Linked DNA regions of Homo sapiens. The protein of the gene in region 1 interacts with the protein of each later gene in a pairwise test. Each region holds a gene or a part of one and is shown on either strand. Other genes may lie near its edges.

Region 1 (7,025 bases):
ACGTGCACCCAGGGCCTTGGCATTCAGCAGGGACCTGCACTGAAGACCCCGTGGGGCCCCTTCTCCACCCGTGCCCAGATCCTGGGAGCACAGGAAGCATGGGGTCTGGGCCCCACCTCACCCACAAGCCACTGGGAGGAGAATGGACTGAGTGTGATTCGAATCCGAGGGCATGGGACGGCGCTCAGTGCCTGCGAAAGGAGAAGGTGCGGACGGCAGAGCGTGACCCATTTACATTTATAGGAGAAACAGTGGACCAGGGAGCGACACACTCAGCTTCCCTACTTCAGGCAACTGGCCGACTCCGACCAACAGAGAAATCGGGAACATCATCATACGGCTTTTCGGTCACCTCTGCGGACGCTCAGTCCCACTCCCCCTCCCCCTCAGCGTCGTCCTCGTGCGGCGCCTCCAGGTCGTTGAGGTGGAAGTTGGCCATCATGTCGCGCACAGCCAGCATCAGCCTGTTCAGGCCCTGGTTGCGGTTCAGACCCCCAGCCACTCCTTCCTCGGGCCTCTCCCCCTGCAGCAAGGGGACATGTCTGAGAAGGGGGCTGTCTGTGCTGGGACTAGGGGCCCGGGGCCCAAGCAGGAGGCACTGTGGAGCCCGAGGTGGCCCTTGCCCCAGCACCGGACCCTGAACCCTCCCCAGGTCCCTGTGAGGAGGAAGCTCTCAAAACCAAATGCCGTGTCTAGACCAAGCCAGGCACAGAGTGGGATCAAGCCGGCTGACTCACGGCCCTGCATCTGCTACCATCTGGGCAGGCCCCAGTTTCCCCGGCAGAATGGGCACCCCACTGGCACAATGCAGCCTTGGTCCTTCCCTGCTCCCTGTGCCGGCTGGCACAGTCCTGGTTCAAGGAGGCTCCAGGCATTCGCACTGGAATGGATATGCCCGCACCCACTGGGGAGGCAGGGGCTGGGACGAGCTCAACCTACCTCCATGGTATAGTTTGGCAACAGTGACCGGAAGAAGAGAGCAATGGTGTTTCCATGGCTGATAGGACTTAGCCTGAAAGAAAGTCAAGAAAAGTCAGAAACGACACTGAACTGAGACTCGTGGGACCCAACCCGGCTCACGGGGCTGCCTGCCAGCTGCCTCCCTCGCAGGGACACGGAGGGGCCGCCAGGGGGCAGAGCAGCAGCAGCTGAGCACAGGCCCTGGATTCCCCGGGTGGCCCGTGAGGCTTCCTCATCAGCTTAGGGTGGGGCTGTGGACAGCGGGAACAGGATGAGGGAGACCAACTCAGCTGAGGCAGGCGTGGCGTCCGGAGCGAGGCTCCCACAGCCATCCTCGGCCACTGCACAGGTGCCTTGCTTTTCAGAAAAGCTGCAGTTTCAACGTCTCCTTCAGCACCCACTCCTTACGCAAAGGCAGAAGCTTCCAGGGCCTGCGTTAAGCGGAGACCCTCACGGTGCGAAGGGCTACCGGCCCGGCTCTACAGGACGCTGAGCGGCCAGGCCTCAGGAGCTCTAGGGAGGGCGAAAGCCTGGGCTCCACAGCGGAGGGAGGCAGCAAAGAACCGCGATTCCTCAATGCTGCAACACCCTGCCGGCAGGGATAATCACGACGACCGCTGTGCGGGTGACGGGGCCTGGGTAAGGCAAGTACTTTCCAGCCCAGAAGGAAAAGGTAAAAAGCCTTTCAATGACCCGGATTCTGAAAGCCAGACACACCGGCCGCCTGGCAGTTGGCCCTCTTGCGCCGCAGCCCTGCTCTCCCGGTCTGGCCATGGGGCTTTTGTTCTCTCAATGTGCCGTGTGCTCTGCTCCTGGCACAGGGCCTCGGCACATCGTGACTCTGCTGGGGAACACAAGGACCCTCTCCCCTGAGCCTGGTGAGGGCACATTCATCCTCTCCGTCTCAGCACAGCCACCATCCTTCCTCCAAACACCTTACTGGAGGATTTTTTTTTTTTTTTTTTTTGAGATGGAGTCACTCTGTCACCCAGGCTGGAGTGCAGTGGCGTGATCTCAGCTCACGGCAACCCCCTCCTTCCGGGTTCAAGGGATTCTCCTGCCTCAGCCTCCTGAGTAGCTGGGACTACAGGCACAACCCACCACGCCCAATTTTTTTTTTTTTTTTTTTTTTTGAGACGGAGTCTTCCTCTGTCGCCAGGATGGAGTGCAGTGGCACGATCTCCACTCACTGCAACCTGTGCCTCCCGGGTTCAAACAATTTTCCTGCCTCAGCCTCCCAAGTAGCTGGGACTACAGGTGTGCGGCACCACGCCCAGCTAATTTTTTTGTATTTTAGTAGAGACGGGTTTTCAGCACGTTGGCCAGGCTGGTCTCAATCTCTTGACCTTGTGATTTGCCCACCTTGGCCTCTCAAACTGCTGGAATTACAGGCGTGAGTCACTGCACCCAGCTGGCTAAGTTTTGTATTTTTAGTTGAGACGGGGTTTGCCATGTTGGCCAGGCTGGTGCAGTTTTGATTTTATGTTTATTTCTACATTCTAAAATTAATATGTTTTCCCCACTTCACTGCACACCTGCTTCCACTGTGTCACTCGCACCTGCCACAGAGGCCGACACGCAAGCGCTTGTACATTCGGTGGAGATGGGAAAGAACGTGGCCTGCAAACGCAGAGCTGTGACCCCCAAATAACACTGTTCCTCTCCTCCTCTCCCTTCCTGTGAGGGGAAAGACCCACTTAGCCCTGAGCCCCATCTCTCAGCATCTGGGTCTGAAAGAGGCAGCCAGTCCCTGTGAGCCCCAAAGCCCTGACCTCAGAGCTGCAGGAGAGAGCTGGGAGCTGCGAGGTGGGAGCTGGGAGCTGGGAGCTGCGAGGTGGGAGCTGGGAGGTGGAAACTGGGAGGAGGGAGGCGGGAGCTGGGAGCTGGCAGGTGGGAGGCAGGAGCTGGGAGCTGGGAGGCGGGAGCCGGGAGGTGGGAGCTGGGAGGCGGGAGGTGGGAGCTGGGAGGAGGGAGGTGGGAGCTGGGAGGTGGGAGCTGGGAGGTGGGAGGTGGGAGCTGGGAGGTGGGAGCTGGGAGGAGGGAGGCGGGAGCTGGGAGGTGGGAACTGCGAGGAAAGAGGTGGGAACTGGAAGGTGGGAGGAGGGAGCTGGGAGGTGGGAGCTGGAAGGTGGGAGGTGGGAACTGCGAGGAAAGAGGTGGGAGCTGGCAGGTGGGAACTGGGAGGTGGGAACTGCGAGGAAGGAGGTGGGAACTGGAAGGTGGGAGGTGGGAGCTGGGAGGTGGAAACTGGAAGGAGGGAGGTGGGAGCTGGGAGCTGGAAGATGGGAGCTGGGAGGTGGGAACTGTGAGGAAAGAAGTGGGAACTAGAAGGTGGGAGGAGGAAGCTGGGAGGTGGGAACTGGGAGGAGGGAAGAGGGAGCTGGGAGGTGGGAGCTGGGAGGTGGGAACTGAGAGGAGGGAGGCGGGGTTGGAAGGTGGGAACTTGGAGGAGGGAGGCGGGAGCTGGAAGGTGGGAGCTGGGAGGAGGGAGGCAGGAGGTGGCAGGGGAGGTGAGAGGAGGGAGGCGGGAGCTGGGAGCTGGGAACTGGGAGGAGGGAGGAGACAGGGGCTGTAAGGTGGGAGGCGGGAGCTGGGAGGTAGGAGGTGGGAGCTGGGAACTGGGAGGAGGGAGGCGGTAGCTGGGAGGTGGGAGGCGGGAGCTGGGAGGTGGGAGCTAGGCGGCGGGAGGAGGGAGGTGGGAGCTGGGAACTGGGAGGAGGGAGGCAGGAGCTGGGAGGTGGGAGGCGGGAGCTGGGAGGTGGGAACTGGGAGCTGGGAGGTGGGAATTGGAAGGAGGGAGGAGGGAGGTGAGGTGGGAGGTGGGAGGAGGGAGTTGGGAGGTGGGAGCTGGGAGGTGGGAGGTGGGAACTGGGAGGAGGGAGGCGGGAGCTGGAAGGTGGGAGGCGGGAGCTGGAAGGTGGGAGGCGGGAGGTGGCAGGTGGGAGGTGAAAGGAGGGAGGTGGGAGGTGGGAGGAGGGAGCTGGGAGCTGGGAGGTGGGAACTAGGATGAGGGAGGCGGGAGCTGGGAGGTGGGAGCTGGGAGGTGGGAACTGGGAGGAGGGAGGCAGAAGCTGGGAGGTGGCAGCTGGGAGCTGGGAGATGGGAGGTAGGAACTGGGAGGAGGGAGGTGGGAGGTGGGAGGAGGGAGGTGGGAGCTGGGAGGTGGGAGGTGGGAGGAGGGAGGTGGGAGCCAGGAGCCGGGAGCTGCTAGGTGGGAGCTGGGAGCTGGAAGGTTGGAGCTGGGAGGTGGGAGCTGGGAGCTGGGAACTGGGAGGAGGGAGGTGGGAGCTGGGAGGTGGGAACTGGAAGGAGGGAGGTACCTCTCTGGCCTGACGTAGGAGTAGATTGTGTCCGAAGGAGGCAGAGGATCAAACCCCATCACAGACTGCGTGGTCACGTCCTTCAGAAAGGGACATAAAACGAAGATGCTACAGATGCTGCCAGGGGGCCTCTACCTCTCCCAGCAGAGTCCTTCTGTCGACTCCAGCATGGACTGGATGCATCTGCTGAGAGATAGCCACAGAGTCTGACAGAAACGGCTGTGCTTTTTGTACCAACGAGCTTTGGGTGAGGGTGGGACAGTCCTTCTGCCACCAGGACACTCACGGGAGTCGAGATGAACCTGCACGGCGTCTGCCCTGCACACCAGAGTGTGTGGTGGGGAAGGAAGGGGGTCACGTGCCGCTCAAGCCTGCCAACATCTTCACCACGTGTCAGAAGCTCCCACTTCAGCAAATGCAGGCTACAGGGACCCTGAGCTGCCCTCGGGTTGCACAGTGCCACGTGCTGCCACTCTACTGAGGAGAGTCAGAAGCTCACAGCCCCAGACAAAGCCAGCCATGCCGGTCATAAGGGCCCGCAGAGCAGCTGAAGTTAAACCAGGAGGCACTAAGCTGTCCCCAGTGGACGGTCCACGGTCCTGCGACCCTCTGACTTGCTGGTTTTCTCACTCGTTCTATCTTATCCCTTAACAACAGTACAAACTCCTTAGGTTTTGAGACAGAAACGGCACCTCCAGCACAGGAGGCGTCAGAGCAGGACTACACCCCACGACTACAGAGAATCCCCCAGCAGCCGCACCACGCGCTCACAAGACCACGGATGGAGCAGCTCACCACGGTGACGACTCAGCTTGTGCTCTGAGCCCCAAAGGATTTCTCTCTCAAAACAACAAGCATCCGAACCCGGGCTGCCAGGAAAGGAGGAGCCCTCTGCACTAGACCCTGCCCCTGCCGTGGCGGGGCTGGGCTGCTGAGGGAGCCCGCACCACGCACGCCTGCATGTGGACCGCCCGGAGCAGAAGGGACGTGCATGTGACCGGCTTACACAGAGCTCCCATTTCAGCCTTTCTCCCTTACCGGGGGCAGGGCAGCGACGGCTTCCTTGATCTCAGAGAGGATCACATGGCGGTGGATATTCCTGGGTGCACGCTGGTAGAGCACCTTCCGCCTAGGGCCGGGGAGAAACAAGGCACAGCAGATAAAGCACAGCAAATGAAATGGTAACCGCCATGGAGCCTCGGCCCCCACCCCCACCCAGCACGAGGCATCTCGCTGCATCTCTGGTGGCTGCAAAAACTGTACACTTTACTCTCGAGCAGAGGCACCATGGCTGGTCCCTGGCCTGCGGCTGGGGAGCCTCTGGGGACCAATCCCAGCCACATGGCCAGTGACTCAGCCTCTTCATCCAAAGAACAAGAACGATGAGAGCCGTAGCCAGTGGCTTCTTGTGGGAAGTCACTGAGTTCATCTCCATGAAGGGACACCTGGGTGTGTCACCATCGTCACTGCTACGGCTACAGGCACAGGCACTGGTCCCTGCTGGAAATCGCTCTTGGAGAGCAGTACAGGGAACAAAATGCTCCTGTCCATGAGAATGTCCAGTCCAGTGGGGACAGCAGACACGCGGACGGGCCCATGACTGCCAGCGGCTGGGGGCACCAGCGCCTCTTGGGCACCCCCGGGCACACCTCATGTCCGCGGCACACAGACTTCACTGTGGAGATGCAAATGGGCACCACTCCCAGGCGGTCCTGAGCCTGGCCACACCACTGCACAGAGCCACGGTGCTGATGCACAGAACTAGCACAGGGCCAAGGGCGCAGACAAACGAGACAAGAACAGCAAGGGGATGCCTGTCAGTTGCAGCATATTAGGGCATGAGCCTCCGAAGTGTTCACACACAGGACAGGAGACTCTTTCTCGTCTCTGCCAGATTTCTTTACTCCCAAGATGCTGCTGTGAGAGACTCGTCATCATCTCACAGCTCATGTGGAAACACTGCAAGACCCGAAGGCACCACTCCAGCCCGAGGCACCCGGGAACAGCAGCTCGGTACCCTGCGCTGATCACCACAGCTGCCTCCCAGGAAGCCTCTGGGACACGCCAGGGGCTGTGCGCTGTCTTGTAGGCTCCACACAGGCCCCACAGCAAGGGAGGCCAAGCTGCTCACAGCCCTTCTCGCCTCCCGAATGCGAGGCCCCCGTGTCTGGGATGAGGGTCCCTGAGGAGGGGGCGTGGCAGGGCTTGTGTCAACCCCTAGCTCACCGGTTCTCACAGGCTTCCACGGCTGGGTCCCCGGCGTCCACTGCTTGCAGAACCTCGTGGACGTTCTCCTCCAGCCAGCTCATGGTGGCGGGCTCTTTCCAGAGAAAGTGTGACCTCCCAAGGTACAGGTTCACCAGCTGGCTCAGGGCAGGGGGCTGGCTGGGGGAGAGCAAGGGCTCTGAGCAGAACCCCTCTTCAGACCACAGCCTGCCTCGAGGCTGGCAGAGCCCCATGGATGGGCAGACGGGGGGTCCAGGGAGTGCCCTGTGGCCTGGAGTGAAAGGAGGCCCCTGGGCTGCTGGCCTGAGGGCGTGGGGCTGGGGCACACAGGTATGTGCCGTGAGCCTGTTGGGCAGGTTATGTTCTTTAGGAAGCAGGACTGACGTCACAGAAATGTGAAAATGCACCCAGGGCGGGTCCATCTGCGTGCACACAGGGCGAGCCCTGGAGGGCCAGGGGATGACCCCAAGGCGTGCACTTTCTCCTGTGTTTGCTCCCTCTTTGTTTATTTTGTTTTTT
Region 2 (7,025 bases), on another chromosome or scaffold:
TGACTACCACAGGCTAAAACAGACCCAGAGAAAGTACAGTCAATTCCACAGCTTCTGAGCCCTGTATCCCAAAGACCAGTGAGGCCCCCCAAGCTCCCTCCCAGCCTGTCAGCCTTTCCTTCTTGGCTCTCGCCATGACCTGATGGCCGCATTCTGGATTACATGCTTGATCCCTGTCCTCCTCCACTAGACCGTTAAGTTCTGTCAGAGGAGGAACCATGCCTGTTTTGTCTCCATTGTGTCTCCTCCAGCATGGCTATGCTGGGAGGTACTTACCATTATTATTAGAAACACACATACACACACACAACCACCTGTACCACACTGGCCTTAGATACTGAAAAAGAAAGTCTCTGTCTTCCAGAGACGTACATTCTACCAAGGGAAAACAATGTGGGGGAAGGAGGGAATAAAGCGTCAGCCAAACCTTTCCATAGCCTCTGACTCAGTCCTCATACTGCATCTGGAAGGGAGAATGGAAAGACCTACGACCTGCTTCTTACAGATGCAGAGTTAAAGTCACATGACCAAAGTCACAGAGCTTGTTAGAACCAGAGTGACATCAAATTACTAGCACAGTGCTCCTGTCACTGCGCCATATGCCTTATTGGGCAGAATAATCAACAACGGCCTCCCGTGTAAGCATAATTCCTAATGCCTTCAGTTAGAAGACTTTAACAGAAGAAAAAAAAAAAAAGAAACAGAAATGACTGTAAGATCACTCTAGCTTGAAAGTTACTTTCCCTCCCCGTTCCACACCCCCTCACAGTTACATGATACAGCTAGTCAATTTAAAAAAAGAAACCCAACAAGTGTCAGTAAGGCAAAAAGATATAATTAAAAGAAAATAGGTTTCCAGCAAAAGTGTCTTCTACTCTCCTTTATTTCTCCCTTGATACCTCAAAGCACACTTCAGCCACAGTGTTAAGCAGGCCTAATGCTAGAGGATCACAATGATGAATCACAGCTGAAATTCTAACACAATTTCCCGATTTTAATAATAGCTGTGCTTCTTTTGATGTGGCTTTGGCTGTCTGATTCCTAAGGAGTCTTTAGACTGAGTACTTAAAATATTGTAATCATATAAATTACAGCACTATATTATCTGACATGCTTGCAACTGAGAATTTACAAATTAACTGGTTTCAAATTACAGTCTTCCAGTTCAAATCAGAAACCTCAAATAAGCCAACTCTGCTATATAACTAACAATTTAGCCAGGCAGGAAAATGTGCAGGTGGCAAACATTTTGTCAAGATGTTAACTTAAAGCTGTGTGGTTGACAGAAAACTGGGGATCAGTGAACCTGGGTTCCAGTCCTAACTGCGTTAACTCAAAGAGCTCTGCAACTTTTGGGACACGTCACCACCACTCTAGATCACTGTTTTCTTATCTATGAAATAAGAGTGTTAAATAGAATGATCTCAAAAGTTCCTCTCTACACGTTCATAGCAGCTATTATTCACAATGGCCAAAAAATGAAACCAAGTCAAATGTCTATCAACTGATGACTGAATAAACAAAATGAGGTATATCCATACGATGGAATCTTAATGGTAATAAAATGGAATGAAGTACTGATACAGGCTATATGGAAGAATCTTGAAAACATTATGCTACGTAAAAGACATAAGTCACAAAAGGCAACAAGATACTGTATGATTTTAAGAAATGCCCAGAACACGCAAATCTAAAGAGTCAATAAGATCAGTGGTTTTGGTCAGGTACAGTGGCTCACGCCTGTAGTACCAGCACTTTGGGAGGCTGAGGTGGGCGAATCACTTGAGGTCAGGAGTTTGAGACCAGCCTGACCAACATGGTGAAAACCTGTCTACTAAAAATACAAAAATTAGCCAGATGTGGTGGTGCGTGCCTGTAGTCCCAGCTACTCAGGAGGCTGAGGCATGAGAATTGCTTGAACTCGAGATGCAGAGGTTGCAAAGAGCCAAGACAGTGCCACTGCACTCCAGCCTGGGCGACAGAGTGAGACCCTGTCTCAAAAAAAAAAAAAAAAAAAAAAAAAATTTAGTGGTCTCCTAAGGGTGTGGGGGAGGAAGGGATTGAATGAAAAGGGAGAATGGCTGCTAATGGTAGGGTTTCTTTTGGGGGTGGTGAAATATTATAAAAATGGGTGTGATAATGACTGTACAACTCTGTCAATATACTAAAAACCAATGAATTGTGTATACTTTAAATGGGTACGTTGTACCGTACATGAATTACATCTCAATAAAGCTGTTAAAAAATGCCTCTCAGCTCAAGCCTTTCAAAATGCTCTGTAGTTGTTGAGTAGGGAATGAGGAGGCAACTTATAAAAATCAAAGCAAATAAAAGAGACCAGTGACCTAATAATCCCACAAATTTGTCCTAAATTGGTATTCAGAGAGAATAACATTACAATTTGTTGTATTACCTGACCAGGTAATAGGGTTGGGTAAAGGGATTCAAAGCACAAGAAGGCAATTAAAAATAAAAGTGGCCATTGGCCAGGTGCAGTGGCTCACGCCTGTAATCCCAGCACTTTGGGAGGCTGAGGCAGGTGGATTACCTAAGGTCAGGAGTTTGAGACCAGCCTGGCCAACATGGCGAAATGCCATCTCTACCAAAAACACAAAAATTAGCCAGATGTGGTGGCATGCACCTGTAATCCCAGCTACTCGGGAGCCTGAGGCACAAGAATCACTTGAACCCAGGAGGCAGAGGTTGCAGTGAGCTGAGATCACGCTACTGCACTCCCCCGACTGGGTGACAGAGTGAAACTGTATCTCAAAAAAAAAAAAAAAAAAAAGTGGCCATGGAATTATTGCAATTTAGGTTTAATAATAGCATTAGAATTATGTTTTAAGTCCTTATAGTTCAGAGTTAAATTCTGAAATATTTACAAATGAAATGCCTGGCATTTTGCTTCAAATAATCAGGGGTGGAGGACAGCAATAGATATAAATAAAACAAGATTGGCTATGAGATAACTATTAGAGGTGATAACCATTAGATGGTTAAGGAGGGGTTCGTACTGACACACACTATGACAGGAATGAACCTTAAAAACATTGTGCAAAGTGAAAGAAGCCAGTCACCAAAGGACATATGAAATGTCCTGAATAGGTAAATCCATATACACGGAAAGTAGATTAGTGGTTGCCAAAGGCTGGGAGGAGGGAAAGTGGGAGGTAAAGAGTGACTGCTTTGGCTTTTTTAGGGAATGATGAAACTGTTCTGGAATTAGATTGTGGTGATGGCTGCATAACATTGTGAATATACTAAAGACCACTGAATTGTACACCTTAAAATGGTTAAAATGATGAATTTTATGTTATGTGAATTTGGTCTCAGTAAAAAGAAAAAAGGTTCATTGACTTTTCCCTCCACTTTTGCATATGTTTGAAAATTTTCCAGAATAAAATTTTAAATAACTGATCATAAATGATCCACACTTAATCTATTTTACTATTGATATAACGTTTACTATCAATATAAAATAATTACTCCAGCTGGGCACAGTGGCTCACGCCTGTAATCCCAGCACTTTGGGAGGTCAAGGTGGGCAAATCTCTTGAGCCCAGGAGTTCAAGACCAGGCTGGGCAACATGGTGAAACCCCATCTCTACAAAAAATACAAAAGTCAGCCAGGTGTGGCGGTTTAACACCCATCCTTGTAGCTACTAGGGAGGCTAAGGTGGGAAGATCACTTGAACCCCGGCAGTCAAGGCTGCAGGGAGCCATGACTGTGCCACTATACTCCAGTCTGGGTGACAGAGCAAGACCCTGTCTCAAAAAAAAAAAAAATTACTCTAACAAATTAATGCTCAATTAAGTTATACCAGAAAGGCAGACTGCTAAGCACTCAGTATCATTATGGGTCCAACTGGAACAAAGGAGAATAAAAATCACATATTCTGGTAGATTTAAAGATCAAACCCCTAATATGGTGGTGAGAGGCCTAGTTGTCAGTTTCATTTCTGCCAAGTTACTTTACTTCCTTGAATCTCCTATTCATCTTTTGGTAAAACTCAGGAAATAAACTAGGTTCCTCCCAATAGTAATATAATAGTCTATGACCTTACACTTTGTATTAATACAATTTCTTTCTTTTTAAAAAGAACCTAAAAGCAAATGCCAATTTAAGGAAAAATGTTACTTGACATCAAATACCCATCCTACTATTTCCCTGCAGTGATGAGACTGATTCGCAATTCTCAACCATATGAGCACTGACTTACATACACTTAAGGGTAGTTCAGAGTTCTCTATCCTGAGGTAACAGCCAGCAAGTTTATAAAGTCTCTGAAGTCAGTCAGCCTTTTCAAAGTCATTTAAATTTAACAAAATTATATCCATATTGTAACACAGTGTATTGATGTATTGTTTCTTTAGTATAAGTGACTCAGACAGCATATAAGGTATTGTAGGAAATAAATGACAATTCAGTAAGACACTTTTACGAAAAGATTTTTCGAACTTATCCATAATATTACATAGGTTGGCTGGGCACGTTGACTCACACCTGTAATCCCAGCACTTTGGGAGGCTGAGGCAGACAGATCACTTGAGGTCAGGAGTTTGAGACCAGCCTGGCCAACAGGGTAAAACCCCATCTCTACTAAAAATATAAAAATTAGCCGGGTATGGTGGCAGGTGTCTGTAATCTCAGCTACTCAGGAGGCTGAGGCATGAGAATTGCTTGAACCCGAGAGGCAGAGGCTACAGTGAACTGAGATGGCACCACTGCACTCCAGCCTGGGCAACGGAGCAAGATTGTCTCAAAAAATAAATAAATAAATAAAATAAAATATTACATTGGTACTCATACCTGATAAACTACCATATATTATTAAATCTTGGCTATATACTGTATTTTAGAGTTGAGTTTTTCAATTAGAGAATAAATCTAGGCTTTTAATTACATAAATTGATGTTTTTCAACCCCAATCTAGGAGACATATATACTCCAGCCCAATTCTGCACTGAAGGACAAGGACTGCTGCAAAAGAAATGAGTGAGACCCTCAAAATAAATGAAAGGCACACAGCTCAGCCACTAAGGAGATGGACAAGCCATGTCAACCTCTGATCTGCTACTTTTTGCATCTATAAAATGGTAACACTGCTACTTATACCTCAGGATGTTGTGAGGATTAAAAATTGAGTAAGCTAAGTGCCTGGTGCAGTCCTGGCACAGTCACTAAGCATTTACTATCTTTATGCAGTTTCTTTTTGTAATGCTAACTGCCCTCCAAATTCCTCCAAAGTAAACACATGGATTAGTAAATGAGAAAGAAACAATGCTTAAAACAACTATGGGTAACATACCTGTTTCAAGTCGCGTAGAATACTGATATAAGAAATATAAATTGACCAAATAAAGAAATCCAGTTCCTGGACCCACAGGGAAATAAAAGGTGGCAGTGATTGGCCTCCAAATCTGTCCAGATCAAAATAAACACAGCTGTTAGTTTCTGTAAGCCTGGTTATTTCTTTCCCTTCTAACTAAACAAAATTAACAAAGCATCCTCCTCAATGAGAGGTGTGAAAGTGATCCTACCAACACAACTCAAGAAAACAACTGAAGAAAAGTGTTCACACCAAATACAATCACATCACTTTGCAAATCAATGGAATAAAACGACATCATAAAATAAGCAACAAATATTTCTAAACAAGTTGAAACAAAATCAATACTATATGAGTATATGGTTAGTCTTTGCTGAGATCAGGCATACAATTAAGCCTACATCAAAAAATGAATTACAAAGGCTTAATTTCCAACAGTACAGTAATGCCTCTATTTAGGGAAAGAATATTCTGGAATGACAAACCTTGTCCAAAAATGCCACATTCAAAGGCAGAAGTAAAACAACAATTTTTTATTCAAACCAATGCACTAAATAGGCAATAGGGGCACTTTTTCTTTAAAAACATTTCCCTGAAAAAACAAACAAAACATAAGAAGGGTCTAAAGTAACAAGCAGGCCAGGTTCGGTGGCTCATGCCTGTAATCCCAGCACTTTAGGAAGCTGAGGCAGGCAGATCACCTGAGGTCAAAAGTTCAAGACCAGCCAGGCCAACATGGTGAAACCCTGTCTCCAATAAAATTACAAAAATTAGCCAGGTGAGGTGGCGGGGGCCTGTAATCTCAGCTACTCGGGAGGCTGAGGCAGGAGAATCGCTTGAACCCAGGAGGCGGAGGTTGCAGTAAGCCAAGATCGCGCCACTACACTCCAGCCTGGGTGACGAGCGAAACTCCGTCTCAAAAAATTAAATTTAATTTAATTAAAATAAATTAAATAATAAAGTAACAAGTAAGCCTCATTCCCAACCTCCAGTCTCCCAGTTCCCCAACAACAGCTGATCAGTGTCTTGTATTTCCTCTAAGAAATACATGTTACTATTACTCATTCTTCTTTATCCTACTCTATACGGCACTGTTTTATACCTTGGTTCATTCCCTACAAAATATTTTAATTGGCTTCATAGTATTCCTTGTATGTGAATGTCTAAACTTTTGTTTAAACTGTTACAATGCCACAATGAATATTCTTGTATATCCTCTTTATATGTGCATATACAGAATAAGTTCCTGTCAATAAATCTGCTAGAGCAACAGACATAACCATTTATTTTGGTAGATACTGCCAAATGCCTACAAAAATGTTTGCTCAATTTATACTTCCTCCTAAAAAGTAGATGAATCCTGTCTTCTCTCCATACTCTCACCATTTCATGTATTATATATTCACCAATCTGAAAACTAATTTTTATTTGCATTATGAGAAGTCAAGCACCTTTTCACGTTTTAAAAACCTGAGCATTTCCTTTATTCATTTGTTTTTCTGGATTTACATTTTTTTTTTCCCCCCCGAGATAGGATCTTGCTCTGATGCCCAGGCTGGAGTGCAGTGGCATGATCCTAGCTCACTACAACCTCCACCTCCTGGACTCAGGTGATTCTCCCACCTCAGCCTCCCAAGTAGCTGGGACTACCAGCATGCACCACCACACCTGGCTAATTTTTATATTTTTTGTAGA

What was found.
Region 2: the proteins of TCF25 (region 1) and DERL1 interact in binary tests that used the Homo sapiens proteins (3 or more experiments, as listed by UniProt).

Annotation. Positions count from the first base shown.
Region 1 is NC_000016.10:89,904,578-89,911,602, reverse strand, and holds the end of TCF25 (ribosome quality control complex subunit TCF25), read right to left. Parts: intron 6,666-7,025; coding exon 6,507-6,665; intron 5,410-6,506; coding exon 5,319-5,409; intron 4,361-5,318; coding exon 4,281-4,360; intron 1,013-4,280; coding exon 940-1,012; intron 524-939; coding exon 365-523; 3' UTR 224-364; downstream 1-223. UniProt on the Homo sapiens protein: Component of the ribosome quality control complex (RQC), a ribosome-associated complex that mediates ubiquitination and extraction of incompletely synthesized nascent chains for proteasomal degradation.
Region 2 is NC_000008.11:123,025,296-123,032,320, forward strand, and holds part of DERL1 (derlin-1), read right to left. Parts: intron 5,462-7,025; exon of another isoform or gene 5,422-5,461; coding exon 5,310-5,421; exon of another isoform or gene 4,935-5,309; intron 478-4,934; exon of another isoform or gene 428-477; intron 1-427. UniProt on the Homo sapiens protein: Functional component of endoplasmic reticulum-associated degradation (ERAD) for misfolded lumenal proteins. Forms homotetramers which encircle a large channel traversing the endoplasmic reticulum (ER) membrane.